Regions from separate parts of the Homo sapiens genome. Here regions 2, 3 and 4 are each reported to be linked to region 1. Evidence: microRNA targets listed by miRTarBase, many of them from high-throughput screens and not tested one by one. Region 1 holds a microRNA gene; each other region holds the end of a gene's coding sequence.

Region 1 (7,697 bases):
TGGGTCCTTGTAGGGATCCAGAGAGATGGACTCCCGCCCAAAGCCCGCTTGCTTTCCCCCAATCCCAGCTCACGAGGGCCTCGGGCACCCGCCCGTCGGCTACGCTTGGAGGCTGGCGGGACGCCGGGGTCCAGCGCGGCAAGTAGGCAAGGCTCGGCAATGTGCGGCTCCTTCCACGAGGGGGCGGCCGAGCACTGGCCTCGCCTCGCCCCTCGTCTCCACCCGGCCTGGGGTGCGCTCAGACCCGGGCGCAGGATCCATTTGGTCTGGGCGGCTGAAACCTTTAGCCTCCTCCCCTTTGCGCGGGTTTATTTTGCACCTCTGTCTCCTAGGAGGGGACTAGGGCTGGGCGGAGGGAGCTAGAGTTAGGAGACCGAGGGGACTTTCCCCTCAGGCTGGGGTTCCTACCCGAGGTGAGAAATCGCGGGCTTTAGGAGCCAGGGGAATGGGTGGGACAAGAAGCGGGACCTGAGCCTGGGAACTCCGGGTTTTCTTTTCGAATTAAGCTAGACACTGCTACCCAGATGTCTTTGGAGGTGACTTTTAATTGAACATTAAAATTGGGTGGGGTAAACGAGAAGGGAAAACAAGGAGGAGGGAGAGAGGGCAGGAGGGGGCTTAACCACCCTAATTTGAAGTCCCTGATCTGAGAGATGGGCATGGATCACACCCTCATATTTTGTTTCGGGAGACATTGCGGGCAGGCAAGGCAAAGCTCATTTGGAGAAGGGGTGCTAGAGCTGAATCCAGCTGCAAGGCAGAAGCTCCCCGGATTTGGGCTGGGGAGAGTGTACAGTTGGCCAGGAATGGCCGACCATGGTCCACGGGGCTGGATATCAGGCCCGGGGCCCTCCCCTTCAGACCGGAGTGTGTCTTTATTTGAATGCATGAAAGAACAGCTGAGAAACCGGGAACTGGGAAATTCAGGACGATGAGGTGGCTTTGACATGTGAGGGTTATTTAGGTCTCTGCCCAGCTTGGAGATGAGAATTAGACTAGGGGCTCTCCCTTTGGCATCAGGATGGAGTATTATTTGATCAGTTGTGGGGTGTCTGTTTATTATGGGGTGTTGATTTGATTGTGAGCACCGGTGGCTGCATTCAGCCTTTGAGGCCTATATGGTAAGTTTCAGGTATGGGGCTGACTTGGAAGTTACATTAGTTCTGGGGGTTCTGACACCCACAATTTGGAGATTGTGCTCACCTGTGTCATCTTGGACTATCAGCAGAACCAAAGTACTCATGCTGATTTGGGGGTGCAGTCTATTTTGGGGTGCCATCTAAGTTTCAAGGCTCAGATTAGATTTGGGGAATAAGTTCAATTTGGAGTTTTAAAAATTAGTTTGAGGTGGAACATTATAGGAAGCTGGGAGCAAGTTCGAAGCTTTCTGTGATTGGGGGTCCTGGGAGGGGGGAGCAAACTTTTATATTTGAGTCTTGTGGACACTCACGTTCCACAAAGTGGAAAGACGTGGGGTATTCCTGTGTATCCATGGATACCCAAGAAGCTTTTTCCCCAGGGGAGAAACAAGGTGAGGGCCGCGAGGACAGGAGACTAAAGTTCTGGGGTGTTCTTATTTTGGGGGTGTTTTGTCACTCTGGCTGCTTTTGGTGAAGCTAAGGGATAATCATAAGGTGAGACTGATTTGGGAGTTCACTTAATTTGGACCCTGGTTTGGGATGTCTTTTGCTTATAGTGCCCTCTCACCCCAGATTCTAGAAGTTTCTTTAGTGAACCCCCAAATAAGCCCAGGATTTGAAGGGAGAAACTTGGAAAGGGTGTGGTATCTCCTTTTATTATTATGTGGCTTGAGGGAGAAGAGAGGGAGAAAAGGCGGTTTCAGACTCTGAATCCCAATTTCTTAAGGGAGCACCCCTTAGTTTGGGGGAAGTTGGAGAAAAATGGGGTGTCCCTTGGCCAAGTGGGCACCCCTGACCAGGGCAGTGCTGTTGGAACTGTGGCAAGGAGGGGTGCTGGTGGGGTACAAGGAGGTGATTCTTGCACCCTGATTTTCTAGGATGAGCCCCAAACAGAAAGCAGACAGAGGACTGGGAGTGTGGGTGAGATGGCGGGGAGGGGTTCCCCACGGCAGCCGGGGCTACAGGGTAAGCCAGGCCAGCTCTTCGCGCCTGGGTCCCTTCTCTCTTCGGCCCTCCTCCCCTCTCTCCCTCCCACCGCCCACCCCCCCAACCCAAGAAAAAAAACTGCCTGTGCAACAGCAATGGCAGATTCCAATCCTCCAGGCTTTCCTAAACCACCACGGTGACCAGCCAGGGGGGAGGGGAAGGGAGGAACGGGCTTTCCTGCTTCCTTAAGACAGGGGCAATGAGCTTGACCTCCTGGCCCCTAGCCCTTTGAGGAGTGATTCCCCCCGGTCTGGAAGCCAGGTGTCCTGGACCCTAGCCCCCGAGCGGTGGGGGGGGCCTGGAGAGACGGGGAGGAGGAAGGAGGGAGTGACTTCCAAAATTGGCATCGGGACAGAGCAGGGCTGGCGGGAGGCAGGCAAAAGACGGAATTTTCCTGAAAAAACGGGGGTATCTGAGGACCCCAAATTTGGGGAGCTAGTCCAGGACCGTCCTCCCAACATCCTAGATTTTTTTGGGATTTTTTGGGGACCCCGGGACCCCTCTAGATGGGGTGAGGAATGTAGTGTTGGGTGAATCTGACTGGGGCATTGCAGCTGCCTCTCCCGCCGAGTTGGAGACGGATGGGCTGGGACGGGTTTTGGGGGGGTGTCCCCAATTCTGACTGGGAGTGGAGGAACCCCTCCTGAGATCTCTTGTGGGGGTGCCCCCTCCCCAGGGCACTCCCCAGTCCCTGAGCCAGCCGAGAGGAAGGAGGCCAGCGATGCGACTGGGGCGGCTCCTTTCTCCTGCACCCCAAATGTGAGGGATGCACCCTAAATTTTGCTCTTTTCAAAATAGGGGACCAGGATCTCAGGGGAGAGTAGCTGAGGTAAGTGGGGAGGGAAGTGTCCTCTGTTTTCAGGAGAGACGTGGCGGTTGGGGGGGAGGTTTGGAGGTGCGTGCTGGGGTGGGGTTGGCTTTGTCAGTCTTGGAATTGGGGGGATGATTGGAGAGGCTTTCTCTTATACCCCTAAACTGCAGCCCCCCAGACGGAAACCAAAGGCTGAGACCAGAGAGCCCCCCAACATCCCCAGCCGTTAGGATAGTGTTTAATTTCTCTTTCACCCCCCACAAAGGCTCTGCCGAGGTAGGAGCTGGGGGCAACTGTTAGTTTGGGGGCTATGGAGGGTGGTGGAGGAGCAGGAGGCCTTGGCAAGATTTGATGGAGGGCAGATAGGGGTGTCCGGGAGGGGTCTGGCATCTTCGGGGGCCTAAAAAGACTGCTTACATACACCACCTTGGATCTTTCAGATTGCTAAGAGTTTTGGGGGGTGTGTCGGAAGAGGGGGTGGTAAAAGATGCGATGGGATATAGGAAGATAACTTCTGGATTTTAGGGGGTCATATTTTGATTTGCAAAAGGAGTTTTGGCCCTTGGATTTTGCTTTCTGAGGGGTGTTTTTAAAAAATCAAGTCCTGGACAGGAGAAAAGGGCTGAGGGAAGGCCTGGAGTTGGGGGTGGGGAGAGGCATGTTTGTCTCAGCTTAAACGTGGCTCTCTGGGGTGGGCCCGCCTGCCCTGGCCTGGTGGATGGGCTGATGGAGGTTGCTGTGGGGGCCGGCTCGGGTCCTCAGGGGCCCTGGGGAGTGGGAACAGCACTGGGGGTTGAATACCTGGCCCCCCAGGTCCAGATGGCCCTCTTCCTGGGCTCTGCTGCTCCCCTTCCCCCTGGTCTCCATTTCCTGCCTTTGGCCTCCATCTTGTGGCAGGCCCAGGGCCCAGGGCGACTTCCGGCCCCCCTCTCCCAACCATGTTCCGGCCCCACCACCTCTGGACTGCCAACTCCCAACCCTGCTGGCCTTGGCCCTCTGTCTCTCCTTGCTTTTCTCTTGGGTTCTGACCCAGGGAGAGGAAGGACGGACACAGGAAGCCTTGGGTCCCTGCCCTTGCTGAGACAGGAGGCAGTGTGTTGGCCCCTCCAGTCATTCCCTATTTCTTCTGCCTCTGACCCCACCCTAGGGATCCCCTGAGCTGAGTTCCTACAGAGGGAAGATGGTCCAATCTTACTACACTGTGAGCTCATCCCCATGGTCCGTCGCCTTCCAGTTGCCTGCTCAGCCCGTCCCTGGTTCCTCCCAAACGTTTTTGGGGGCCATGTTTGCCTTTTAAGGCTTCTCTATCCCCCCGCTCCTGGAGGTGGTGCTGGGGTCTTCCCAGCACTGCTATGTGCTCTCTTCCTTTCAACCCACCCCGGTCCTGCTCCCGCCCCAGCAGCACACTGTGGTTTGTACGGCACTGTGGCCACGTCCAAACCACACTGTGGTGTTAGAGCGAGGGTGGGGGAGGCACCGCCGAGGCTTGGCCCTGGGAGGCCATCCTGGAGAAGTGACACAAAAAACATCTGGGGCCTTGTGACAAACTTCTTGCCAGGTGGGCAAGGAGAGGGTGGGGTATGTAAGCACCCCTCTAAAATCTCCAGGGCAGTTTCAAGAATACTGATGGCCAGAGACCCTGGGAGTAAGTTCTGCCTCAAGAGAACAAAGTGGAGTCTTTGTTGCCCACACCCAGCTTCCCTGGCTCTAGCAGCACAGAAATATTGGCACAGGGAAGCGAGTCTGCCAATATTGGCTGTGCTGCTCCAGGCAGGGTGGTGAAAACTACCGAGGAGGGGCTGAGCCCCCATGGGCCGAGGAGAGAAGAGGGAACAGGCCTCTCCTGCTAATAATGTTAAGCAGACAGCACGAAGCTGAGAGGGAAATCTTTATTGTTTTCTGTATAAAAATGTCCATCAGATGAAGGTCAAAGGGGTTGGGGGCAGATGCTTATGCGGGAATAGCGAGGTGGCAGCCCCAGCAGCCTTTCAGCCCTCTCTCGTGCAGGCCTTGCTCGGAGTCCCAGGAGATCCACAGGTCCGGCATGAACAGTGAGAGGTCAGAGGTGGAAGGCTCAGCAGGAGAGGAGAGGAGGATCAGCAGAGGTCATGAGAAGGCCAGAATCCAGGGTCAGGCTGTCTGGAACAGGAAGTAAAATGGGCCGAGATGGAGCGAGCCCCCAGTGTGCTTCCAAGGCCACTCCCACCTCCCTGAAACACCCTGCTACGTACTGATCCAATGCCCTGCGCTGTGTATGAGAGCACCTTCTCTTCTGAAACCCCTATACAAGGGAGGGGCCCCTGCGGAGACCGTGCCCTGCCATCCAGGTGAGCCCTTTCTCCCCAACCCCGTCAGCTGTGTGGGAGGAGGAGGACTCCTACCCTGGTCGAAGTTGAGTTTCTTAGCTGGAGGAGTTTCTCCTAGCCCTTCAATATCCACCACGTCACTGTTGGCATCGGAGTCGTTCAGAGCACTGAGTGTCACATCTGGGAAGGGGGCATAAGCTAGGTTCTAGGTTCCCCTGACAGCCTCTCCCCCAGCCCCAAGCTTCCCAAAGCTTTGTGCCTCCTCTCCCCTCCCCTCTGCCCCTCTCTGGGAACCTCCACAGGGACAGGAAGAGAGACTGACCCTTCTTTGACCCAGGCCCAATTCTCTCACTAAACCTCAGATGGGACCTTTAACCCCTAGGCAGCAACTCCACAGCCCTCACCAGCCTTCTGTTTCTTTATGGGGGGACCCCCGGCCTCAGGGACACTGGAGCTGCTGGGAGGAGGGGCAGCTGGAGGAGGTGACAAGACACCAGATGCCACCTTCTTGGGCCCTTTCTTGGGTGACTCAGCTGGAAGGGGGATGCCAGAATCTTCATATACCTTGCGTTTCACAGTGGCCTTTATCTGGGCCCTGAAGAAAAGAGAGAAGAGGTTAGGAAAGGAGTCATCAGAGAGACTAACAGAAGAGGGGACGGGAGGGGAAGGGGTTCTGGGAGTCCCTTCATAAGAATCCAGGTCGGGGCCCCAACCCATTGGTAGGGTTCTCACTTTCTCGAAGTTTTACACTCACTCAGGATGGATGGAGTGTGGAGAGTGGAGTCCCTGAACTGAGTAGTGGGAAAGGCCCATCTCCTAATTCTCTTCTGGGAGAGACATCAGGTAGAGCTTGGTGATTTACAGGTGGATTGAGATTTACTGATCAACTAGTTCAGGGTCACCATATCCCTGGAAACACTGCAGTGGGGTCCTCAAACATTTATATAAATAACCAGGGGACTTCCATCATCAAATACAATAACAGCATCTCAGGCAACCTAAATTCACATTCTTGGAAGGATTACCACAGCATTTTAGGAACTTCTGACCAACTGTGACAATTCTATTCTTTCAGTCCTCAAGGGGATTCTAAAAAACTAGTGACAAAGTAGGGAAGCAGCTGAGCTGGAAAGGAGTTCTGAGGACGATGGAACCTTGGGTAAGGAGGAAGAAGGCTGCCCACCCGCCCTTTTCTGGCAGCCACCCTCCCTCACACTGTCCGTTCCTTGATGACACAGCTGATGTGATTAAGATCGTCCCCAAATCGCTTCACAGCAGCCCTCAGCATCTCTATTTCCGTCTCCGTCCACTTCGCACTGTCAGAAGGGGAGAGGGGGGATAGCAAAAATGGGAGGGGGGGTGTGGAGCCCGCCCACAGGCTATGCATCCCACAGCCAACCAGCCGCCTCCTTCCGATTTCTGGGACCCCTTCCACGGATGCATAAAGAGGTCCTCCGTAAGGGGAGGCGGAAAGCTCTTGAGGCCCTGCGGGAACCGGGAGGACCCCAATCACAAGAAATCACAACCACCTCCACCTTAGACACCCCTTTCCACCATCAACGTTAAACGGCTGCTGTACACAGCACACTGAAACCAACTCGCCAGGAAGGGCTTTTCAAAACAGACCCACCAACACAGCCTGCAGCCGTCTGGGGGAATTCCATGAACTGGGGTGGTTGGGAGTGGCGGTGGTTTGTGGTCGACCCGTTCGCAGCAGGGAGAACTGTGAAACAGGAGTCTGGGCTATGGGCCTGTCTGTATTTTTATCTGTCATTCATTCCCTCACCCAACGATCATTTATTAACACCGACTCTGTGCTGTGCCACGCACAAAGGGAAACTAATGTCTGTCCCTGTGCTAGAGAGGGTCCGTGTCTGTGACCGAGTCCAAGCGCCCGCTCTCAGCGTCCACGTCCCAGTCCGGGCTCACGTACCCCGCAGGAGAAGAGTCGGCCACGGGATGCAGCTGCATCGTCAGCTCCCCGAGCTTCGTGAAGGCGGCGCCGGCCGCCGAGAAGATCTCTCCGACCTGGGGGCGGGGCAGCGTCACGGGGGGCCGGCGCCCGCCCTCCCCGTCCCGCCCGGAGCCCCTAGCCCCACCCCAGGCTCGGCTCCCGCCCGCCCCCCGCCCGGGGCGGAAGAGCCGCGAGCCAAGTGGGGGGCCCGCCCTCCCGTGGCCGCCAGGGAGCGCTGTCCGCGAGGGAGGTCGAACCTTTGTGGACGCTGACGTCATGGCCCCGCGCGCCTCCTCACGGAGACGCCGCCGCCGCCGCTACACGCGAGCCGGGACCACGGAGAGCAGGGAGACTGAGCGGCTCGGGCCCCCGCGCAGGAAGTCCCGCCCTCCCCGCAGCGGATAGGCTCAACCCGGCGGCTCCCCGCCCCATCAGACGCAGTCGCTTAGACCGCTCGGCGCGCCCAGTCGATGGGGAAAGCCTTCGCCTCACTTCCGCGC
Region 2 (7,697 bases), not on the chromosome of region 1:
GGGATGCTGGGATTTTGGGATGCTGGAGTGCTGCAGTGCTGCAGTGCTGAGATGCTGGAGTGCTGGGGTGCTGGAATACTGTAGTACTGGTGTGCTGGAGCGTTGAGATGCTAGGGCACTGGGATGCTAAGGTGCTGAGATGCTGCAGTGCTGGGGTGTTGGGATGCCGAGGTGTTGGGATGCTTAAGTGCTGGGGTGTTGGGATGCTGGGGTGCTGGAACACTATGGTGCTGGGGTGCTGGAGTGTTGAGATACTGTAGTGGTGGGATGCTTAAGTGCTGGGGTGCTGGGTGTTGGGATGCCTAGGTGCTGGGGTGCCGAGATGCTGGAGTACTAGTGTGCTGGGATGCTGAAGTGCTGGGGTCCTGAGATGCTGCAGTGCTAGGGTGCTGAGATTCTGGGCTGCTGGAGTGTTGGGGTGCTGGGATGCTGGAGTGCTGAGATGCTTGGACAATGGGGTGCTGGAATACTATGGTGCTGGGGTGCTGGGGTATTGAGATGCTAGGGTACTGGGATGCTGAAGTGCTGAGATCCTGGAGTGCTGGGCTGCTGGGCCACAGGCTCTTGAATCCATTCGTCTGCCCAGGGGAAGAAACCAGAAGATAAAGAGCTAATGAAGGAGCTTTGGTTGAGAGGGAGGAAGTAATGGAAGGAGCAACATCTTGTGGAGGAGCAGGAGAGAATGGACCTCAGGTTGGGAGAGAGGGCCAGGCTACAGGCCAGAGAGGCAGAAGGATTCCAGCAGAGTGTGGGCTCCAGGAGCCAAGGGGAAACAGGTTTCTGGGAGGAGAGAGTCCAGTACTGCTGAAGTGGCAAGTCCGCTGAGGACCAGGAAGCTTCATTTGGCTTTATGACCAGGAGGAATTTGGAACTGTGACTAGAGTACTTAGGGGGAAGGAGGCAAGACTGGAGCCAGATTGCTCTGGGTTGAGGGGTGAGTGGGAGGTGAAGCAGGGCACTGTCACTCCTTTGAAGGGTGGCAGAGAGCTGGAATTGGTGCTGGATGGGCTGTGGGGTGACAGGGTCATGTGGAAAGCCCCTGGGGGGCACCTGGAAAAGGAGAAGCTGACAGTACAGTGAGAGGACAGCTAAGGGAAAGCAGAATGGCAGAACACGCACTGCCAGGAGGAATGAGGATAGGGTCAGGAGTGCCAGGGGCAGTGAGGCCAGCCTGGGGTCAGGTGGCAGGACGTGTCCAGGAAGCTGGTCTGCACTGCAGCCCACACTGGCTCAGCCTTGAGGTTCCCTGTGTGGTTGGGGTAGGAAGTTGAACCCTCTGGGAATGGAAGATGGAACCAGCTCTGCGAGCCAAGCTCAGCTTTTATCTGTGGGTCTCTGAGGGCTGGCAGAGCTGAGTGGGGACAACTGTGATCCGTGAGGCTCTCAGGTTGAGGTGGCCCCTCCGGGAGGGCTTCATTTTCCCAGCGGGTAGGTTCTAAGCAGCAGTGGCTGGGCAGGTGGGTCCAACACAGAGCCAGAGAAGGGTGAATGGGCCTCCTGGCACCCCACCCCTGCTGCCCCTGAGCTCAGTGATGGAGGGGGACAGCACAGCTGAGCCCAAGTGCTTTGGTGTGGCCCTGAGGGAAAGCTGCAGCCTGCCTGGGGCCTGGCATGGATGGGACACTTGAGGCAGAGGGACAATAGTGGGCGCTGCAGTGAGGCTGGCTCTTGGAGAGGTTTCCTGAGGAGTGCTGCCTGAGACGGGCAGGGAGAACAGAGACAAAGTTGGTGACAGGGAATGAAAGCTGACTGAAGGACTTTACCCAGACCTATGAGGATATCTCTCTCAGCAGGAAGCAGGAGGGGACTGTGTGAGGACTGGCCAAGAGCTGGAGTGTTGGGAAAATGACTCTTTCTCCGACCCCTCTGTCCTAGCTCTGGCCCCTGGACTGCGGAGGTCTGCTTCCACCCCCATTGGTCGATCGTTGTCCCTTGTCACAGCCATTGAGAATTTTGGCAGGGAGCATGTTCTTAGAGCATTTTTAGGCTCTGCGGGACATAACAGCTCTGCCTCAGAGCACATGCCTTTCTCAGCTCCTGAAAGCCACTGATCAAATTGGAACATTTTGTACCTTAGGGATGAGGATATCAACTCTCCCAGCCACTTAGAGGGATAAATGTGATGATGCATTCAATTGTGACTACATCTGATCCCAACTGTTGCTTCAGCTGCTCTCCTATAGCACATGGCGGGAGGCGTGCATCCCAGTAGCTACCTCCCCACTTTTGGGGAGATGTGGTTCCATCCATGAAACCTGGGTACCCGCCTACCAGGTCCTGGCCTATCAGGTGGCAGGGTCTGGTCAAAGAAGGGCATGTGTGGTCTTCAGCAAGGGAGACAGGACGGTGGTGCAGAGAGTCTAGACCCTCAGGGCAAGTCTCCCCCACACCTGCTCCCGAGGCAGTTGTCTTTGTGACCTCCCATCCCCCTCTGTTTCATCCTCTATAAAATGAGGGGCTGAGCCCCAAAATAACAGGCTTCTTTGCCATGATGCAAAACTGCTGAATCTTTCTTTCTGACACACAAGGCATCGAGCAGCCTCTGAAAGAACCAAAGCCACTAGCAGGCTTCCTGACTTGGGTTTGTAGGTACTGAATACTCCCTTGAAAAATAAAAACATAGAGGCACTTTTCTCCTGGCTGTTTATTACAGAACGAAGAAAAAACACACTGGCTTGAAACAGACGCCAGATTTCAAATGTAGAGGTGAAATACGAGGTGGCAATTAAAATGTGATTACAGAAAGTCTGGACACTGAGAAAAGTTTACAGGACAGTGGGTGTGGGTTTTCTATAACAGACACTTAAATATACATGACGATAATTGCAGATAGAAACCATCAAAGACAAACCCCAAATCAACTAATAATGTTTACAGATGTTCCCCCCCAAACCACAGAGCCTTACATCAAAACAAATACTGAAAGGCTTTAAACCAGGAACAGCTCGCCTTAACCCCACGAGGGTGCACACAAGCTGGGCTTTTTCTCTCGGTCTGAATGGTAAAGGGAGGAGGATACTCTAGCTCCTCCAGGTGGATTGCTGAGACAGGGCTCGGCTCACACACTGTCTCTGCGCCTCTCCCAAATCTGGAGAACTCTCCCAGCCTCCTGGTAAAGTGTCTCTGTGGGGCACTTAACGATAAAACGGCTTCTGCTGTAAAGCTCATTAGGAAAGAGCTAGCGGAGACTGAAAGGTTCGCAAAAGAGATTAAGAATCACACAAGGCAATAGGATTTTTAGTGAACATAGAAATAAATGGCCAAGTGGTTTTCTATTTGGCATTTGTCAACTTGCACAACAACTCTTGGTCATATCCACATTGCTCATTGCATTAAAACCATAAGCGACTCAGCCACCTAGCTTAACAAGGTATCACTGGAGCAAACAACACGGTCTGCATATTTGTAACATTGTATAATAAACACAAAACAATGCATAGTAAACACAACTCTACTGAAACAAAAGCCGTCGCTTTATTTACAAAGTCACAAAATGAAGTATAAATACTTCTGTCATTAATGTTTAGGAAAACCATTTACAAAATTTTCAAATATGTACACGTAGCTTGAAAAATCACCAGCTTTCCATTTTGTCACAGGTAGAGAGAGGGATAAGCATGGGCTGACAACACCACTCAAATTGTAACGGGAGACAACTGCGGGTATGGATCGACACCACTTCCTAGAGTGATGTCACCATGGGGGTTTCTATGGGCATCCTGCTCAGATTTAAAGTGCCCCAGCATCCTGGGTGACTTGCCCAGAATTCTGGGCTGTGGCATTTTGAGCAGCAGCATGCTGTTCCAAAATGTCGTCGATCAGCCTCAAGTTGCACACCCAGTCTTCATCTGGGCTCACACAGGAGCCTTTCAAGAGAGCTTCAATGAAATCTACCTCATTGCAGTCAGGTGACGAAATCAGATCATTTAGTGGGGGTTGGGGCTGGCGCAAAAAGTCGGCAGGTGGCAGCTCAGGGGGAATATCCGTTCTGTCGAACGGACCTGGGAACTGGCTGGCAGCAACGGCAGAAGCAGCAGCAGCGGTGGCAGCAGCAGCCACATAGCTTGGTGGCTCGATGCCCTGTATGGGGCTCAGGGGACTAAAGCTGGCCATACCCTGCTGGAGGAACTTGGTGGTGTTTGCTACAGGCACCGGGCCCTGTACCGGGCTCTGCCTGAGGCTCTGGCTGCCCAGCAGGCTGAAGCTGGGGTTGTTGGCCAGGGGCACTTGTGTTCCCATCGCAGCGGGCACTTGTGCCTCCCAATCAGATGGCCTCTGAAGGCAGGCCTGGCCAGAAGGTGAGTGCTGCTGAACGCTATTATCCACTTGGCTGAGGGGTGTTTTCCCCGAAACTGCTGTGGTCACAGCTGCTGCCGCTGTGACCCATGCAGCATTGTTGAACGCAGTGGGCATTCTTGGCACACTAGGCCGTCTGAGCTGGTGGGGACTCAAGGACTGGGTGCCCAGGGAGCTGGGACAGAACCCAGGCAGGGGCACTTCTGGTGGGGTGGCCTTGGGACTCTGCATATGCTGGCAGACAGAGTCAAGTCTGCCCAGGGGAGTCTGGCCTGAGTGTGAGAGGATGGGACACTGGGGGCTGGAGGTGAAAATTCCTTGCCGCTTCCCCAGAGTTGGTGAGATCACTCCCATGCCCTCGCAGCTCTGGTGCCTGGTGAGTGGGATCATTCCTGGACTCAGATTGTTCTGAAGAAGCCCAGTTCTGGGTGGCATCAAGTGCTTGCTAGATGGGGGGCTTGCCTTGATCCGGCTACACTTGGAGGTGACTTGTTCTTGGACGGCTACATACAGAAAGAGAGAAGTGGGGATGAGTTCCAAAGGCATCCTCGACTTGGGCTGTGGCCACCGGAGGGTAGCTCCTGGCCCAACACGGACTTCTCACCTCCCGCCCTTGGCTCTCTACTGAGCTCCCCCCTGCTCCCCAGTTCCTCGCCATTCCCCTCATTTCTCTGCCCTCAGCCTGGACTGCAGTTCTTCTGGGAAGCTGCCCCAACTCCCTAGGTCTGTGCTCACCAAGAGCAGATCACACTGGACTGAAATGCCAGCTGATTTGTCTCTTCAAGAAAATTGGAAGCTCCTGGAGGTCAGGGTCCATGTCTGCTTTTACACTCAGTGCTCTGTATGCAGGCCTGGCACTGCCCACCCTTTGACAGGTGGTGCATATTTTGTAGAAGGAAGGAAGGGGCCAGGTGGGGTGGGCTGGGCTGGTGGCGGGAGCTAGCTCAGCCTCTTAGATTCTCTACCCGATGGATGTGACCTGGGACAGCAAGTGAGTGTGGTGAGTGAGTGCAGACGGTGCTTTGTTCCCCTCTTGTCTCATAGCCTAGATGGCCTCTGAGCCCAGATCTGGGGCTCAGACAACATTTGTTCAACTGAACGGTAATGGGTTTCCTTTCTGAAGGCTGAAATCTGGGAGCTGACATTCTGGACTCCCTGAGTTCTGAAGAGCCTGGGGATGGAGAGACACGGAGCAGAAGATGGAAGGTAGAGTCCCAGGTGCCTAAGATGGGGAATACATCTCCCCTCATTGTCATGAGAGTCCACTCTAGCTGATATCTACTGTGGCCAATATCTACCGGTACTTTTTTGGGGTGGACACTGAGTCATGCAGCAGTCTTATGGTTTACCCAAGGTCAGGTAGGGGAGACAGTGCAGTCAGAGCACAAGCCCAGTGTGTCTGACCCACCCAAGAATCCATGCTCGTATCTACAAAAATGATTTTTTCTCTTGTAATGGTGCCTAGGTTCTTTTATTATCATGGCATGTGTATGTTTTTCAACTAGGTTACAATCTGGCCTTATAAGGTTAACCTCCTGGAGGCCACCAGCCTTCCTGAAACTTGTCTGTGCTGTCCCTGCAACTGGAGTGTGCCTGATGTGGCACTCCAGCCTGGACAAGTGGGACACAGACTCCGCTGTTATCAGGCCCAAAGATGTCTTCCATAAGACCAGAAGAGCAATGGTGTAGAGGTGTCATGGGCTACAATAAAGATGCTGACCTCCTGTCTGAGGGCAAGCAGCCTCTTCTGGCCCTCAGACAAATGCTGAGTGTTCCCAAGACTACCCTCGGCCTGGTCCAATCTCATCCCACTGGTGCGTAAGGGTTGCTGAACTCATGACTTCTTGGCTAGCCTGCAACCTCCACGGAGTGGGAACTACATCAGGCATTTTGCTAACTGCTGTATCCTAGGCCAATAAATGTTGATCACATTTATAGCTGCCATGGTAGGGTGGGGACCCCTGCTATCTATCTGTGGAGGCTCTGGGAGCCCCTGACACAAACTTTCTGAAGCAGAGCCTCCCCAACCCCTTTTCCATTCCCTATACCTGACAGATGGCCCAGGAACCCATTAGAAATGGAAGGTCACTGCAGCAGTATGTGAATGTGCGTGTGGGAGAAGGGCAGGATCAGAGCCCTGGGGGTGTGGCAGCCCCCAAGTGATTCTAATCCAGATCCTAGGGTTGTTTCCCTGTCCCATTGAAATAGCTGCTTTAAGGGGCCTGACTCAGGGAAATCAGTCTCTTGAATTAAGTGGTGATTTTGGAGTCATTTAGACCAGGCCTTCAATTGGGATCCTGCTCTTAGAGTTGGATGAATTATTTAACTGATTTTCAGATCTCCTCTTTCTCAATGCTTTCAGAAGCACAGTAACTGCTTACTCTGAAATGAATTCTCACCCCACTTCCACATATGCACCCCTTGCCCACCCCTTTGGGAACACTGGCCTTAACTGCTTACCTTCAAATGGACTCATCTGTTGGGAGATATATGCATTCTGCCGTTCAGGGGTCATTGCCATAAGACCTGATCTCTGTTCCTCTTGCTAAACAGAAGATGAAAAAGACAAATTAGATTACAGCTACCAATTAATAATTAGCCTTAGGATCGCTGCGTGGGGACCTAGGACTTGGCTTTGGTGCAGCAGAAAGCATGAATAAACACACCAGCATACACTCGCATGCATGCCCCACCCTCTCGAGCAAAATTCCACAGGTATAAATAAAGTAAGATTCTGCACCTGGGTTAAAAACACAACTGCAACAGCATAGAATGGGGCAGGAGAGACAGAACTTAATAGCAAGAGCACACAGAAAAAAGTTTTAGGCATTTTGGATGTCCATCTGCTCAGGATGGGTCAGCAGTGAGATGCGGTCACCAAAAGAACAAATGTAACATTAGGCTGCATTAATAGAAGCAGAGTATGTAGAAGGAGGGAGGTGACAGTCCTATGCTAACTCTGCCTTGGCCAGACTATACCCACAGGAGTCTGGGCATGCCAGTCTCAGGGAGACCCAGACAGACTGGCTGCATTCAGAGGATGGTAAGTAATGAGAGTGGGGATTGGACTTCAAACTACCCAGACAAAGAATGGCTGAGCAAGCCAAGGATGCTGTGGCTGGGGCAGAGCAGACTGTGGGCTATGTAGTGGTGGATACCTAGCCTCTGCAGGGCTGTCATAGGGAAAGGACATTGAGAAGAGGACTGAGGCTTGTTCCTGGTGGTCCTGGCATGAACGGCCAGATGATCACATGGTCAGGTGGACACAGTCTCCAACACTGGGAGTAGCCAAACACTTACTGCCAACCTCCCGCCCTTCTCCTGACTAGTTGCAGCATAGGCAATTGGGAGGAGCTTCCTGTCTCCATCTGAAAGCTGGCTGGGTGGGCAGGGGGAGGAGC
Region 3 (7,697 bases), not on the chromosome of region 1:
TGTTTTGAGACAGAGTCTCACTCTGTCACCAGGCTGGAGTGCAGTGGCCTGATCTCAGCTCACTGAAACCTCCGCCTCCCAGTTTCAAGCGATTCCCCTGCCTCAGCTTCCCGAGTAGCTGGGATTACAGGCATGCGCCACCATGCCTGGCTAATTTTTTGTATTTTAGTATAGATGGGGTTTCACCGTGTTGGCCAGGCTGGTCTCGATCTCCTGACCTCGTGATCCGCCGGCCTCTGCCTCCCAAAGTGCTGGGATTCCAGGCGTGAGCCACCGCGCCTGGCCAGGAAAAGGTTTTAGAGCTGATTGTGTCCCTTCTTTGGGGTGGGTGGACACATTGTACAGTCTTGAGACCCCCAGAACTTTGCTTGATGAAAAAGGCCCAACAACCCAGGAAAGAACAATTTTACTGAATATTTTTATTTACTTAACAGAAACATTCACTTATTAGATATCACTGAAGTGCAATTTATAGAACTTAGAGGCAAATTAACATGTAAATTCATATTTTAAGGTTTTGGATTTTTTTTTACAAATATTACAAATGTACATCCATTGATACAATATTGCCATTCTATCATGCTTTTTATGTACATACCTTCAATTAGAATTACTATGTGTTAAGTTCATTTTGCTTACAAAATGCTGAAAACTAACGGGGCACACTGGGAGAGATTTTTTTTTTTTTACCGATGCATAAACTGCAGAGAGATAGAAATCTAGGGCCTGTGTGAAAAGAGGCACTGGGACCAGGTGATCTCGCCTTGGTGTTTAGGGAATGCTCATCCCTCCAACCTTGGCTTAGGATGATGAGTTGGGAAATAAAGTGTTCCTCTCACCAGGGTTTGATCTGTCTGCGGTTCCCGCAGGAGTGATATTGTTTGGTGTGAATCTCTAGAGGCCAGCGCGGTGGCTCATGCCTGTAATCCCAGCACTCTGGGAGGCCGAGGTGGGCAGATCACTTGAGGCCAGGAGTTCGAGACTAGCCTGGGCAACATGGTGAGACCCCATCTCTACCAAAAATACAAAAATTAGCCAATCTCATAAGCCGGTCTCAAAAAAGTAAATAGATCTCTAGAGATGTGGCCACCAGCGTTCCTTCTGGTGGGAGGTCAGAACATGTGGACACATTCAGGAGAGTCCAAAAATGACTGCAGCAACTCCCTGTGCACAAGGCATCAGGAACCCAGCGGGGCTCCCCCAGCCCCAGCATGAACCTGTTGTGTGGATCCCTCGTGGGGGGATGGTGCCTGAGACCTCCTCCTGGGTGGGGGCCACGGCAGCAGAACAAAGGAGCCAGGAGTTTTGGGACAGGGACTAACAAGACAGCAAGAAAGGGAAGAGGCGAGGAGGAGAGAAAGGGTTGAGAAGGGAAGCGAAGAGGCTGAGGGGAGAGTGAGCGGAGGGTGGTGCTGGCCGCCTCTCAGGCTTCCCAGAAACAGCCTGAGAAGGAAGCTCCTCTGTCTCCACCGCATCTCTGGTTGGTCCCTGTGGCCTCTGCTCCTGCCTCCTCACTTCCCCACCATCCTTCCTTCACTTTCTCGGATTCAGAATTTGTGGGAGAAGTTTGACGGGTCACCAGCAGCCCAGTGTTTCCAGAAACAGCCCTGCTCCTGCAGTGGCGAGGAACCCAGACAGCGGCAAGGCCTACACCGTGTCCTCCAGCCACCCGCCTAGCCCCACACAGTGGCAAAATACCAAAAGACCCTAAAATACCAGCGAGGCGGGGGGTGGTCTGTCCCTGCTAAGAGCTGCCTGGGGGTGCTACTGCCTCTCCTGCAACACAGGGCTTCTAAATTTCCACCTCCAACCGCGAGCTCTGCAAAAACTGCAGGCGAGGACAGGCTTTGGAGGTATGTGGGATGGCGGCTCCCTGACATGGACTAGGGGACTCTGCAGCCTCCCTGAGGGCCGCGGGAAGCCCACAGAGCCTCACCGGGTTCTGTTGGGTGTTATGAGAGGCGGCTGCAGCGATCCAACGGTAGTACATAAAAGGAAAGCCTCTCAGCTTCCCTTTGGTCTCTGTTAGAAAGTGATACTTATTGTATTTTGGGCCAATTAGTCAGATTATTTTATTAGAATGGCTTCTTAAAAAAGGGCATATAAGTTTCCCTAAATTAAAAATGTCTACTTTATGTACGTCTCAAATGTCTTCAGTTGTTTTAAACAATACACTATAGACACATCTTGAAATTTATTATCTAAAAATAGGATTTCATCAAAATAACTATTCTGGGCATTGATATCCTCTGTATTTACTGTTTATGGCTCTCCAGACGTGATAAACATTATATCCAAAAAAAAAAGCATGCGACTTTGTTGATAAGAAAAGCTCCCTGTGAAAACAAAATGAGATGGAGAAATATGATCTGTGTGTTTCTTTGAAAAGGAACCCAGCTTGATGTTTCTGAGGAACAGGACTCATCACAAAGTCAGCATGGTGTGATAGATATATACAGATGTAAAGAGAATCACAGGAATGGAAAGGAAACAATAGCTATCGACCTGCACATCCTTTCCTCAGCAAAAACAAAACCCACAGAAACCCTAACTCTATCCCTTGATATCACACACGGCTGCAAAACCGGGGCTGGAGGTGGACAGCGGAGGCTGCCTGGCCGCGCAGCCGTTCCCTGCGCCCCGTCCTGCAAAAAGGCCAGAAACCACCAGACACTAACTTTTTGACTAAGAACCAGGCCGGAAACCACATTGCTGATCTTCCTGATGGGAAAGCAGTGTGTGTTTTGGAGGCAGATAAAGGTGGTGCTGGTTTTATGAGGACTTTTGTAGGGGCCTAAGCAGGCATGAATATAGACTACAGAAAATCTGAAGCAAGGGTATGAATACAGACCACAGAAAATCTGAAGCAAGGGGCTTGGCGGTGTCAGGTGGTGGGAAGTGCGAGGAAGCCAGACGGTGATTTCGAGGTGGACTTGGAGGGGCGGGCCTGACTTCATCAGCCCCCCTTGTGTCGTGCCCAGCGTATTTTCAGGGTGACAGAAAGTGACCCATCCCCTACTTGTGTCGTGCCCAGCGTATTTTCAGGGTGACAGAAAGTGACCCGTCCCCTACTTGTGTCTTGCCCCCTCACTTGGAGGGGAATGGGTGGCCACTCTTAAGACCAATTCAGTGGTCAAAACTGCAGGGCAGACATGGCCTGAAAGTGGTGCTGGGATGTTCTGACCTGGACCTGAGGGCGAAATCCTCAGGCTTCAACACGAGCCCTTCCATCTCTGCAGAGGTGGCACAGCCCCTCCAGGCACATCCAGGGCTGTGGGAATCCTGGGACCTGGGTCTTCCAGGCACACCTGGGGCTGTGGGAATCCTGGGACCCGGCCCCCCCAAGCATAGCTGGGGCTGTGGGAATCCTGGGACCCAGCTCTTCCGGGAACTCTTGGGGCTGTGGGAATCCTGGGACCCGGGTCTTCCAGGCACACCTGGGGCTGTGGGAATCCTGGGACTCGGCCCCCCCAAGCATAGCTGGGGCTGTGGGAATCCTGGGACCCGGGTCTTCCAGGCACACCTGGGGCTGTGGGAATCCTGGGACCTGGCCCCTTCGGGCACTCCTGGCACTGTGGAATCCTAGGACCTGGCCCTTCCTGGCTGGGTCAGGCCCTGCCAGTTGGGAGCAGCCTGCGTGTGGCGTGATCTGGTGTGGCGTGCCTCCTGCGTGTAGGGTCACCCTTGACTGCCTCGACTACCTTCTCCTTTCACTACCCAGGGCCTGGGACCCTCCTTTCCTTACGTGGGGTCCCCTCTGCAGCCCACATCCCCTCTGACAGATCCCTCCACGGAAAGGCTCCGGCACCTCAACCTCACTCTGGCTGCATTGGAAACTCTTCTGTCGCTATCGGCCTTCTCTGAAGAGCTTTAATCTCTCCTTCCATGGAGTCTCCTGTGGACTTAATACACGAATCCATACACTTGTACTAATGGGTAGCATGGAATTAATGTGTGGCTTTCTCCAGATGTGGATGTTGATATTTCAGTAAAGTCTGAGTTGTTTCTGGAAGGTCAATGCCTGAGACAAAACGAATCCCAACCCCCCAGCTGTGGCTTCATGATGCTGGCCACTGGGTGGCCGAGCGCTTTCCGAGTCCCGTGAATCAGACCCTGCGTCTTCCCTGTGACAGTGAAATCTGCTTACAACACAGGCCCCCTCGCTGCAGAAACAGCGTGATTTGGAGCCCACTGGGACAAAGCATTATATGCTTCTCTAGCCAACATCTCAGATGAAGGTGATTTGAGGCCTGGGTGGGAGACTTCAGCCAGGAGCTGGCCGTGCTCCCACGCATTCAGGGGAGCGCTCACTTCTGACTGCTGCGAATGTCTGAGCCACCCATCACCTCTCGACTCTAAGTTCTCTAAGCTTCATCCTAGTGATGTCAAGTTACCAGAACTTAATAGAAACTGGTCGTTTGAGCTTAGCTTTTGCACTGAATTAAGATTTCATTTATTTTTGTGATTTTTATAAAAGATTAATGTGAGTCCTTTATTTGAAAAAATGTTCTCGTATCTTTTGAAACTTTATCTGGAAGAAGTTGTCTACTCCAGTACCTGTTTTCTTTTCTAAAAGAACTCGAGTGATAAATTTGGCCTGATTTTAAATCCCAGGAAAAGTTTCTTTTTCCATACTAATATCTCTACTTCTTATTATCTTGTAACAAATAGCTACAACTCAGTTTCATTTCTGCCTTCTCATTATGATAACTGTAATTTATAGCACTTGACTATGTACAGCACAATGTTATTCTTGCACTTTCTGGGGTGGTCAGCTGGGATTCTTTCCGGGAAGCCCACACCCCAGAGGTGGACACCACCATGCTTTGCCGTCTGCCATCACTGTCATGAATTTCAGAGATGGATTTTTTAAGTTGGAGAAATGAGAGACTGGCTATCTAGCATGATGAATGTTAGAAATGAGTTCTCGGAGGTGAGATGACAGCAGCTCGAGGTACATGGATTACGTAAAGATACTTGGAAAAGAGCCTGACCCCGTATGAATACAGCGCCTTGGCTCTCAGGGATGATGCTGTGGGCTAAAGCCCCCATGTCCCATCTCCACTGTGAGCTGAAGGTCTCTGGTGTTGGAAGCCTGCTCTGAGGGTCACAGAATCCTGCCTCTTACATTTTTTGACAGCTGAACTTTTTTGGGGTCTTGTCCTGCAAGGTGTTGATTGGAGAATCTGAAAGAATAGAGAGCTGGTAGCCTCTCAAGCTGAAGGTAAAGGTTGTTTTGATTTTATTTTGTGCTTGCTTTCTAATGAAAATTTAGTTAAAAAATCAGAATTTGATCAAAGACTTGGTCTCCTTATTACCTGGTAGGGAGGTTATAGGGTGGTAGCTAACCCTTACACAACCCAGACCTCAGTGGCTCTTAGTATCGGCCACCATAAACCAAACGCCATGACGGACTGAACAGGCATGGGCCAGGTGTTTCCGGGCTCCCCACATCTGCAGCACGCGTGGGCCGGGTGTTTCCAGACTCCCCACATCTGCAGCACGCGTGGGCCGGGTGTTTCCAGGCTCCCCACATCTGCAGCACGCGTGGGCCGGGTGTTTCCAGGCTCCCCACATCTGCAGCACGCGTGGGCCGGGTGTTTCCAGGCTCCCCACGTCACAGGTCTTAACTCTGCCTCGCAGGGGTTTTGGAAACTGTTCCTTCACTTTGTGGGAATGGCTTTCGTTTCTCTGGTTCTATTTTAGGTGTTCGGTAATGTCGTACATCTTAAATCTTTTTTGAAAGGAGGTGGAGTATAAAAACCTAAATGAATAGTGAAAATAATAGAGGATTCTTATTGGTTTCTCTGGGGCTGGGGTGGGCATGGCTTTTCTCTTCATTTGTGGCTTATCTTCATGTGCCCCCTCAAGCTAGTGAGACCCCAGCATCACCAAGAGGCGCACGCAGGGGTGGGGTGCAGGGACGGGGCCTGAGGCTCACTCCTGCCTGGTGTCGTGTCGGTGCCTCCTTCCAAGGCTGCAGCTAAAACCCCTTTGCCTGAATGGAGCCCCTCCCTCAGACTCCACAGGAAGAGTCGGCGCTAACTCAACAGTGCATGTGCCCCTGGGTGTGGGGGACAGGGTTCTGGGGCCAGCGATCTGGAAAGAGGCACGTTCTGAATTTGTGTTGTTGCTCGTCCAAACATTGCACACTCGCGTGTTTCTGGGACACCAAAGTAAAACGAATGCAGGGAACCGGCCGACCCGCCACGTCGCCCCCCAGACACGGTCCCATCCCTCCAGCGTCCCGCTCAGCTCCAGCAGCCAGGAGCCCGCAGCCTAGAGAGTCAGTAGAAACTGCTGCTGCTCCGGTGGTTTCCTCACCCAGGTGCCCAGGCCAGCCTTCTGAAAGGCCTTGAACAGCTGCTGTTTCACAGACTGGTAGGTGTGCGCCCCCAGCTTGGCCTCACAGTACATGGAGGGCGTGTCTCCAGGGCTGGGTGTCCGTGTGCTCAGCTGCGGACAAGAAGGAGAAAGAGCCAATCAGACACCAGCAGAAAAGGAGCTTCTGCTAGGTGAGTTTTACATGCCAGGCATCAGCTCCTGGCCTTGGCCTTCTGCCTTTCTTTCTCCCACTATTACAGAGAGCAACTGTGACCAGGTCCTCTGGCAATTCCACAGGAAACCTAGTCATCAAGGAAACCCGCTTCATCTGAGGTGTGAATGATGAATGAGCGGATAAACTTGACTGCTACTAAAAGTATGAACACTGTGCAGGGGCTCCAGGCAGGGTTGGGGACAGAGGGGGACAGTGGGAGCTAAAACAGCATCACAGTGGGCAGGGAGCAGGCTGGTGAGAGTCATGTTGTCGGCTGAGCAGGAGGATGATGGAGCTGGGGCGTTTCCTCTGTTAGCTTTCTGAGGTCTGCCAGGCAAAGCTTTGCAGCAACACAAGACAGGGATCAAATGCAGCTCTGATACCCCCACCACGGGGCAGGGAGGCCAGGAGGGAAGAGGATGGGGCCATGGGGGAGCTCCAAATCCCACAGCGGGTCTTCCAGGGAGGCACTCACCGGGGGGTCACCTCGAGCATGTGCAAGAGGAGAGGGCCCTTTTGCTCAGCAGGACAGCATCGACGCTTCCCTGACCTTCCAAGTCTCCAGGAGAAGGGAGACCCCGGCAGTGCCCTTGAGCGGACAGGACAGAGGCTGAGAGCTGCAGGATGCTGGGCGTCTCGGCCAAGCTCAGAGCTAATATGTGCAATTCTGAGTGTCCTCTAAGTTGGCTAAAACGTTTATTTTAGGCATTAGTATGCCTGCCCTCCTCTACCAGTTGACAAATCAACACTATTATTCCTGCTTGGATTAAAAAGTGTGGAAAAATGAGAGAGGCATTTTTTATGTGTTGGCTGGTTTTTCTGTTATTTGTTGTTTTTGGTTACAGTCTATGCTTTGGAAATGCATACAGATACAGATTTTGATTTAAAATCCAGAAATATTGCTGTTATCCCTACTTGTGAAGGAGAAATTTGCTCCTAATTGTGGATGTCGTGGAAATGCTTGGGCTTTGGGGTTGGGGAGAAATTCGAATTCTGAAATTCATTACCTGTGAAATTTTGGGGAAATTACACAATTTTTCTGAGTGTCGGTTTCCTGATATCTAAACCGGGAATAGTATCGACTTCAAAAGTCCCCAGGAGCTGCTTCTGGGACACCCCGAACAAAGCAGGTGGTGCCGTGCCGGCTCCGTCAGGGGTT
Region 4 (7,697 bases), not on the chromosome of region 1:
GCTTACTTACATTCACCCAGCAAAAGTGTCTCTGTGGAGCCACTTCCCGGTGAACTACATACTTCCTCTATAGCCAGTGGCCCCTCTCATTTTAGGGGAAGGAACTGTCTGCTTCCATATGTGCTTACTAACTGGCCAAGGATTGTTTAATGATTGAATTTATTTCCTCTTGCCTAGTTCAGCATTGAGGATCTCAAAGCACAGCCCAAACAGACAACATGCTGGGATGGTGTTCGTAACTACCAGGTAAGAGGGTAAGGAGGAGGTCGCCTGAGACCCAGGTGGGATGAATGCCTGCCTCCTCCTCATGACGTACTCAGTAGCAGAACCTCTTGGCCAAGGTTGCTTTTTCTCAGAAGCAAACCTGATAATGTATTAAAAAATGCCTTAAGTACTCTGCATGAAATTTTCAATTGGCCTGTGTTCTGGCCAATGTCCTGGTAAAAGTCTGGGTGTCCTGGCAAAGGGGAAGGACTTTCTAATGAATTGAGGAGTTGCAGACAAGAATCACCCATCTATTAAAAGCAGACTTGATTTCTGCTAAAAGCTAGTACTTTCCAGCTGGTGGGAGGATAGTTACTCTTTCTTCTCCCGGGACAGGCTCGGAACTTCCTTAGAGCCATGAAGCTGGGAGAAGAAGCCTTCTTCTACCATAGCAACTGCAAAGAGCCAGGCATCGCAGGACTCATGAAGGTTAGTTGGGCAGGTTTTGGTGTGAATCCCTTTTCCTCCAGGGAGACTAACTTAAGTAGATATAAAGGGATATACCTTAATTAGGCAACAAAAAAGTACACTCCCCCCCACCCCATCCCCCTTTTACAGGAATAGGGAAAAACTGCCCTGGCCCCTTCCTATCTGATAACTCAAAGCAGGCCTTCATTCAGGTCCGACTAGCACAGACTTCACTCCACCTCTAAGTCTTGATCTCACTCGAAAACAGGCCTGATGATAGCTCCTCCAAGCTTATCAGGATAAAATTATTAACTGTGCAGAGGGGAAAAAAACAGTGGTACCAGTAATAACCTTTGCCATTTGTTTTTAGAGCATGTTTTTAAGACTTTTGTAAAAACAGAGTTGATTTCCTAGTCTATATATTAGACTATATATTGTTTCCAAATATCTGAGCCCCCATTGGCTGTACAGCAAGGCAGATGGGTTAAGAATGTGCAGGGAAGAAATGAAAGTTGGATATGGATTAAAAGATTGGCTGTGGAGCTGACTGCAGGCAGATGATTCAAAGCTTTTGTTTTGGTTTCAGATCGTGAAAGAGGCTTACCCAGACCACACACAGTTTGAGAAAAACAATCCCCATTATGACCCATCTAGCAAAGAGGACAACCCTAAGTGGTCCATGGTAAAGACTATGCTTTCTATTTCATGACAGGGGAAGGATGAACCAGGGGAAGAAGACGGTTGGGGTGACTGTAGGTCAAGGTACACGGCCCAGCACTTACTCAGATGAGGTGATACTGAGATAGGAGCTTCCTGTGGGCGGTTAAAAATACAGTGGGCACAGTCAGCCTAGACACGTCTTTCTGTCATGTACACTGTTGTCACATAGGTGGATGTACAGTTTGTTCGGATGATGAAACGTTTCATTCCCCTGGCTGAGCTCAAATCCTATCATCAAGCTCACAAAGCTACTGGTGGCCCCTTAAAAAATATGGTTCTCTTCACTCGCCAGAGATTATCAATCCAGCCCCTGACCCAGGGTAAGAGTGGGCCCTCTCCTTTATTGTCCATATACCAGAATGACCTCATGAATTCCCACTTACTAGCTGATTAAACTTGGGCATGGTACTTCACCTTTCTCAGTCAGCATCCTCACCTGTAACACCCATGAGGGAGGGAATGTGGCCAGAGTTACCTGTTACTATTACCCAGTACTCTATAGTGCTTGGCACCTGGTAAATAGTTTTGAACGAATGACTGCTCGCCTTAGTACCATGTAAGATGTACCTGTGCCTGGCACAACTTTCCTGTTCAAGAGGGGACATTAAAAACTAATCCTTCCTTTTTCCCTTTTTTTTTTGTAGAAGAGTTTGATTTTGTTTTGAGCCTGGAGGAAAAGGAACCAAGTTAACTGAGATACTGCTGCTGGAATGGGCGAGACATTGCTGCAAAGAAGTCAAGCTTTTTTCAGACAAAAGGTGTGAGGGGGCTTGCTTGGTATGCTTACCTGGGCTTGTGTACCTCAGTGGTTTTTGTGTACTTTTTTCAATAAAATATCAAAGTTGAAGAACTTTTCTTCTAAAACCACACTGAGTGCAGTGGGATACTCCCCACTGCAGACCTCTTACCTCCAGGCGGGCTCCTTTGGCCGCTCCCAGATGCAGAGCTGCCTCCACCTTCTTTCTTTACGATCACTAGTAGTTCTGTAGCAAATTGCATGACGTAGGGCTGAGATCCTCAGTCTGGTAACACCCACTGGAATGAACTCTTCTTTCTACACCAGCCTTGCTCACCTGCCCCTTTCATCTTCTGGGTCCCACAGAGGTTTAAACCATCCCATGAGCAGTTCTGGATAAACTGCCAGATAGGGATAAGAACTGAATTCATTTCTCAGCCATGTGCTTGTCTCAAACAGGTGGCTAATAAAGTATTCATCATTTTTCACCCGGGGCTATACAGTGAGAGCACAGGCACTATGTAGGGAAATCAGGGCAGGGATCTGTCTTTCCCTGAGTGTCGGAGTTGGGACCATGTAAGACGGAAGAGACCACAGAACTTGGTGGACCGTGGGCACAATGCCTCCAAAGCCACAGGGGCTTTCTTTAATCAGAAAGACCATTAAAACAAACGTTCTTCTTTTAATACAGCCATTGAAAAGATGACACATTAAGAAACATGTAAACACTGCAGCTGCTTAATTACAAGTTGCACTGCTTGATTTAGTACCTATGCACTCCCAGGTTTGGGGACCTTAAGAGAGGGGGACAGGAGCCTCCCCTCACTTTCACAGTTGGATAGAGAAGGCAAGAATGTGGGTAGAGTAAGAAAGAGAAAACAGAAGACCTGGCTTGTGCACAGCGCCTGAGAGAATCAAAGCAAATTCTGTCTTCTAGTTCTCCCAGAAGAAAGGTTTAAGATGTTAGGAAGGTTGGAAAATGAACGTGTGTTGTCAGTTGGGAGGCAAAGGAATTGACAAATGCTTCTAGTTAGAATATCAGCTAGGAAAAGGAGGGATACAGAGCCTGACCTCATGCTCTGAAAAGGCAAGGAACCCAGAACTTGCCTCCCTTATCCACTTAAGCCCCAACCTTGATCATCAAGGGCAGCGCATGGGTGATCCTGTTCCCATGAGGATTGTGTGTCGCACCTGAACACAGGACACAGCGTGGGGGAAACAACCTTGCCTTCCTCGGTTCTGCTGCCGCCAGTCGCCCTCCTAGGCTACCCAAAATGCCTCTCCCTCCAGTCTCAGCTCTGATCCATGAGCCCTGCCAAAGGCCTGAGACTGCACTGATCTCAGGAAAACAGAAGTCTTCCTTTCCCACACTAACTGAAAGGTGACACAGGAACCAACTCCTTAACTTTCCAAATTACTGAGAACTCAGACTGCCAAATACCGTACCTCTTGGCCAGTGGGGCCTGCTTGGTCTTTCTATAAAGGGAAGGGAGGCCAATGGGAGAGTAATGCCTGTCATTTCCAGGGGAAGCAGAAAAAGGACAGTAAACAACTTTACTACCATAGGCCCCAGCGCAGAGCCGTAGAGGGAGAAGTACCTTCCTCTCTAGCATAACAAGAATATTCACAAGAGTTTTTTTATATGTGTTTTTTAAACACACGATACCAATGGTCCTAAACTTGGGTCAGTCAACTGGTGAAGATGACCTATTTGGCAAGCAGAATGATTCGGAAGTGTGGCAGCAGTCTTCTGCCGAGGCCCTGGTCTCCCCTGTGTAACCTATAGGGAGAGGGGTAAAGGGGCTTGGGCATTAGTAAGAACAGCCTTGCCAAAGGTTCGAAACTAAGCCCCAATTCCCAGAAATGAAATGGAGGGTGAGGAGAGACGAGGGTTCACTCTCAGCAAGGCGGAGGGATCAAGGCCCCTTCCTGGGATTGGTTCTTCAGGGAACCAGGCCCTCTTGTTAAGGGCTTGCTGGGGCACGTGAAGCAATACCTAGAACAGCCCAGACCTTGGGGTTACCAAGTGGAGCGACGTGAAGGCAGGCGGTTGCCATGCACTCATCTTCCGTGGTGGGCCGGGTTCAGCCTCCTGGGTTCAACACTGCCGCCATCCGTGCACGACACTGACCCCAGGGCTTCTCCGTGCCCAAGGCCATCCCACAGGCTTCTGTTCCAGGACATTACTGACAATCCAGAGAGGATGGAGAAGGGAGGTGCCTGGGTCCCAGCAGTGAGTGGCCAGAAGGAGGTGGCCTGTGGGAACTTGAGATCACCACATCCAAGATTCCCAAAGAGGTAGCTTCCCAATCGTGAGTCTTCCCCTGCCACTTAGTGGGGGCTGGCCCAACTCCTGCCACTACCTCCGGGACAGCAAAGGGGAGTACAAGATGTGACTACCCAGGGCCCTGTTGGCAGCTCAGAATCCCAGGGACATGCTCAGATCCTGTATCAGGAAGCTCAGAGAGCCAGGAGCCAAGGATGCGTGCTCTCTGCTCTCCCTCCTCTAAGACGCAAGGCAGCCCCCCGAGGAAGGGGGCTCATGTTCCCCAGAGAGGCTGGCTTCCAGGATGCTACCTCTTCTATCCCACATCGGCCGCAGAATCCCAAGGAGAGACTGCTTCCCACCCCAAGCCCCTTGGGTTCTCCAGAGAAAAGAATTTAAGTCAAAAACATGATTTGTTTTCAGGTTGCAAGTAACGGGTCAACTGAGCCTCACAAGGTCCGCCCCCGCCCCCAGCCGCTGGTGTTGGTAGATGGGGGTGCTGGGTGGGTGCCCAGCATCTTCTCGGCCCTGGGGGCCTACTGCCTGCAGTTGTTGTCAGACAGCTGGCTGGGGGTCCGCACCTCACCCAGGGAGGTGGTGCCCTCAAAGCGCTGTGAGGCGATGGCCGCCTGGTGGGACATGCTCTTCCGTACGATGTCACCCTTCCGCCACAACACCACTTCCTGCAGAATTGAAAGGGGGGCAATGTGACACCTTAGAGGGAGGCATGGGGACAGGTTTCCTAGAGGCTCCCAACTTTGACGTGGGGAATCTCGGGCAAGGACCTCCTCTGCTTCTCTCTCACCAAAGGCAGCAGCTGCCAGCACCTCCCTGTCCCTGGTGTGGGCCAAAAGGGCAGGTGGTTGCAGGAGAAGGCCCGAGGAAGCAGACTCTAAGGCCAGGTGAGAATCCTCATTCTTGTTGTGCAATTGTGGGCGACCTAATGTTCCCACCTCTTGGCAAAAATGGAGTCTGACCTTCCATAGGAAAGAGAGCCTCCTGTTCTGTCCCAAGGGCATCGGGGCCTGGAGGAGCCTGGCCCTCACCTGCTGCTTGAAGTAGCGCCGCTCCTCCTCGTCTATCAGCACCAGGTTGAGGTAATAGCGCACAGAGAACTTCTTGTTGATGTCCCGCATGGTGGGCGTGAGCTCATACCCGGCCAGGAAGAGCCGGATCGGGATGGACTCTCCTGTAGGGGGAGGGCAGGAGTCAGCACAGGGGGCAAGGTGATGCCCTCTCCCTTATACCAGGTCACTCTGACCACTGCAGAGATGCCACTGGAGTGCAGCACACGAGCACTTCAGCCTTCTGGGAAGGTGCAGTCGCTCTGCTGCCCAGCAGGTGGCTGAAACAAAAATGTGACTCTCCAGTTCCACTCCAGGTCATGTTGCAGCTTCTCATGTCTTCTCGAAAACAGAGAGCAACTGAGTGGGAACAGCACAGGTCATTATTAGTATAAGCATCTTTTGATTACATGCAGTGTGTTTAGTTTTGGGGTTTTCAAAAGGCAGCTGTCAAAGTCCAGTTAAGCCACCACTTCACCCAGCAGTTCTGATGCCATCTTTCTCCATCCTCAGTGTATGCCCCCCAAAATACATCCTCCCTCTTGTGTGGACTGGCAAGGTGGTATGGTGGAAAGCAGAAAGTCCTCACTATGGCCTCAGTTCTGCAAGAACCGCTTTTCTGATTTGTGAGTTAAGTCTCTGCTTCCTCTGGACCTTCATTTTCTCATGTGGAAAATTAGAGAATCGGACTGCGTGATACTACAGATCCCTTCCAGCTCTAACATCAGACCGTTTCTAGTATCAGTGGAACAAAATTAGGGCAGTAATTCTACCAAGAAAGGCCAAACCTATAATGTGGTCTAAAGCTAAATATAAGCCATCTTATCATTATCTGCTCTTTTACATGCATTCTCAGTGACCCATTTCATTTGTACAGGAAAAATGACAGCTGGCTCTATTTGCACAGCCAGTGACAAAATGGGACATCAGAGAGTGTCAGGAGAGCTTGGTCCCAACCCTCCAAGGGCCTGGCATGGTAACACCCGCGTGTCCCCAGAGCTGCAGGCAGCTAAATCTGTGGCGCTCCTCCTTCCACATGGAACAGCCTGTGGGAGTAAAAGGAATAAGCCAATAAAACCCTGGAAGCACCATGCACTTCAAAATGAAGAGTCTTCGCCATTCCTGAGGGATGGCTAAAGAGCCAATGAAGAATGTAAATGATTGCTTCTTCCAGATAATCACGGTCCCCAAATGACAAAGGGCTTCCAGCTCTACTAACCCAGATGTAATGTTAGCTCCCTGGGGCTGGGAGAGGATGCTTCCAGCAAATTCCAGGGCTATCTGGGTACCTGGTGGTGTTGGCTGAAGTATCTAGTAGTGCTCTTTCTACCTGACAAGTGAATTCAGAAAATAAATCGGAGCTAGAGCCAAGTCACAGACAGGCTGCTGTGCATGCATCCCTTGCTCCTGAGCAGCAGAGAATGCCAGAATGTCAACAGGAAGAAGCAGAAACGTTTTCAAACCACATCTGCTAAACCTGGACCTTCCAAAGTGACGCTTGAGGTTCAATCTTCAGTACAAGCCCGATATATAATCCAAGTCTAAGTGCAACTTTTCAGGGTGAAGATGGGATAGTAGCCTCAAGTTCTACACACTCAGCCTTCCTTTTCTTCCTTATGGCCACCCACGGTGTAAACTGAGAGATTAAGAAGTTACAGGTTAAGAGGACATCTTATTTTGACAGTGTAATCCCTCAAGCCCCTCCAGAATTCTGTGCAGGACATGGGAGAAAAGCTGTGGTAGCCGAGGCCTGGGCCTGGAGTCTCACCTCGCACTGGTGCCCCGTCCATGATCTCGTACTTGGCTATCGTGTCATTCTCATGGTACACGTTGGGGCCTGTACCCGTCGTTTCTCGCTTGATGATGTCTATCTCCATGTGCTTGATTTTGATTCTCACCAGCAGGAAGTATATCTTCCCTACAATGACATCTTTCAAGTGGTATCTGGGGAACAGAAAGTACAGAAAGTAAGATGTTGGTACTGTGGCCAGACCTTTCTGTTTCAGTAGAGCGCACACGCCACGGCCAAGCGTGCTGGTTAAACGTCCAGTTGCAGGACACACTCACCCATCACTGCCCACATGGCTGTGGCTGAACTGTTTCCCAGTGCGGTCTTTACTTGGATTAAAGTAGCTTCTGTCCCTTCCACATCCCACGCAAAGGACGTCTCTCCTGCATGGTACCCATTCATGTTTGTTCATCTGCTCTATCTCCCCAGCATGCAGCTGCTTTAGTACCT

The links. Region 1 holds the annotated microRNA hsa-miR-497-3p (CAAACCACACUGUGGUGUUAGA, at 4,374-4,395, shown strand). A microRNA usually pairs through its seed, bases 2 to 8, with sites in the 3' UTR of a target mRNA and lowers its output. Matches are read on the target gene's strand: a 7mer-m8 pairs with bases 2 to 8, a 7mer-A1 pairs with bases 2 to 7 and ends in A, and an 8mer does both.
Region 2: the mRNA of MAMLD1 is a reported target of hsa-miR-497-3p. Seed matches in the 3' UTR shown: 7mer-A1 at 2,931-2,937 and 7mer-m8 at 2,890-2,896.
Region 3: miRTarBase lists ADARB2 as a target of hsa-miR-497-3p. Seed matches in the 3' UTR shown: 7mer-A1 at 5,394-5,400, 7mer-m8 at 2,702-2,708 and 7mer-m8 at 2,661-2,667.
Region 4: the mRNA of THYN1 is a reported target of hsa-miR-497-3p. Seed matches in the 3' UTR shown: 7mer-m8 at 2,198-2,204.

The regions. Positions count from the first base shown.
Region 1 is chr17:7,014,636-7,022,332 of GRCh38, reverse strand. It overlaps MIR497 (microRNA 497), which reads left to right and starts at 4,311; the gene lies at 4,311-4,422. BACC1 (BPTF associated chromatin complex component 1) reads right to left here and starts at 7,551. Exons shown (of 6, transcript NM_174893.4): 1 at 7,455-7,551; 2 at 7,177-7,271; 3 at 6,458-6,559; 4 at 5,648-5,838; 5 at 5,319-5,423; 6 at 4,813-5,072. The coding sequence starts at 7,475. The coding sequence ends at 5,068. RNASEK-C17orf49 (RNASEK-C17orf49 readthrough) reads right to left here. Exons shown (of 8, transcript NR_037717.1): 3 at 7,455-7,697; 4 at 7,177-7,271; 5 at 6,458-6,559; 6 at 5,648-5,838; 7 at 5,319-5,423; 8 at 4,809-5,072. It overlaps MIR497HG (mir-497-195 cluster host gene), which reads left to right and starts at 2,679. Exons shown (of 3, transcript NR_038310.1): 1 at 2,679-2,955; 2 at 4,945-5,264; 3 at 6,319-6,515. It also overlaps MIR195. RefSeq lists silencers at 190-329, 7,169-7,618 and enhancers at 3,605-3,774, 5,126-6,325, 6,738-7,238, 7,589-7,697.
Region 2 is chrX:150,509,106-150,516,802 of GRCh38, reverse strand. MAMLD1 (mastermind like domain containing 1) reads right to left here. Exons shown (of 8, transcript NM_005491.5): 7 at 6,757-6,841; 8 at 2,630-4,799. The coding sequence ends at 6,801. Among named protein-coding and RNA genes, the nearest start is that of MTM1, 56 kb to the left of the region's middle.
Region 3 is chr10:1,176,914-1,184,610 of GRCh38, forward strand. ADARB2 (adenosine deaminase RNA specific B2 (inactive)) reads right to left here. Exons shown (of 10, transcript NM_018702.4): 10 at 400-6,456. The coding sequence ends at 6,280. Among named protein-coding and RNA genes, the nearest start is that of LINC00200, 21 kb to the left of the region's middle. RefSeq lists an enhancer at 7,543-7,697.
Region 4 is chr11:134,242,824-134,250,520 of GRCh38, reverse strand. It overlaps THYN1 (thymocyte nuclear protein 1), which reads left to right. Exons shown (of 7, transcript NM_014174.3): 3 at 178-246; 4 at 601-693; 5 at 1,259-1,354; 6 at 1,562-1,712; 7 at 2,037-2,239. The coding sequence ends at 2,083. VPS26B (VPS26 retromer complex component B) reads right to left here. Exons shown (of 6, transcript NM_052875.5): 4 at 7,227-7,402; 5 at 5,441-5,583; 6 at 2,733-5,077. The coding sequence ends at 4,931. Among named protein-coding and RNA genes, the nearest start is that of THYN1, 6.7 kb to the left of the region's middle.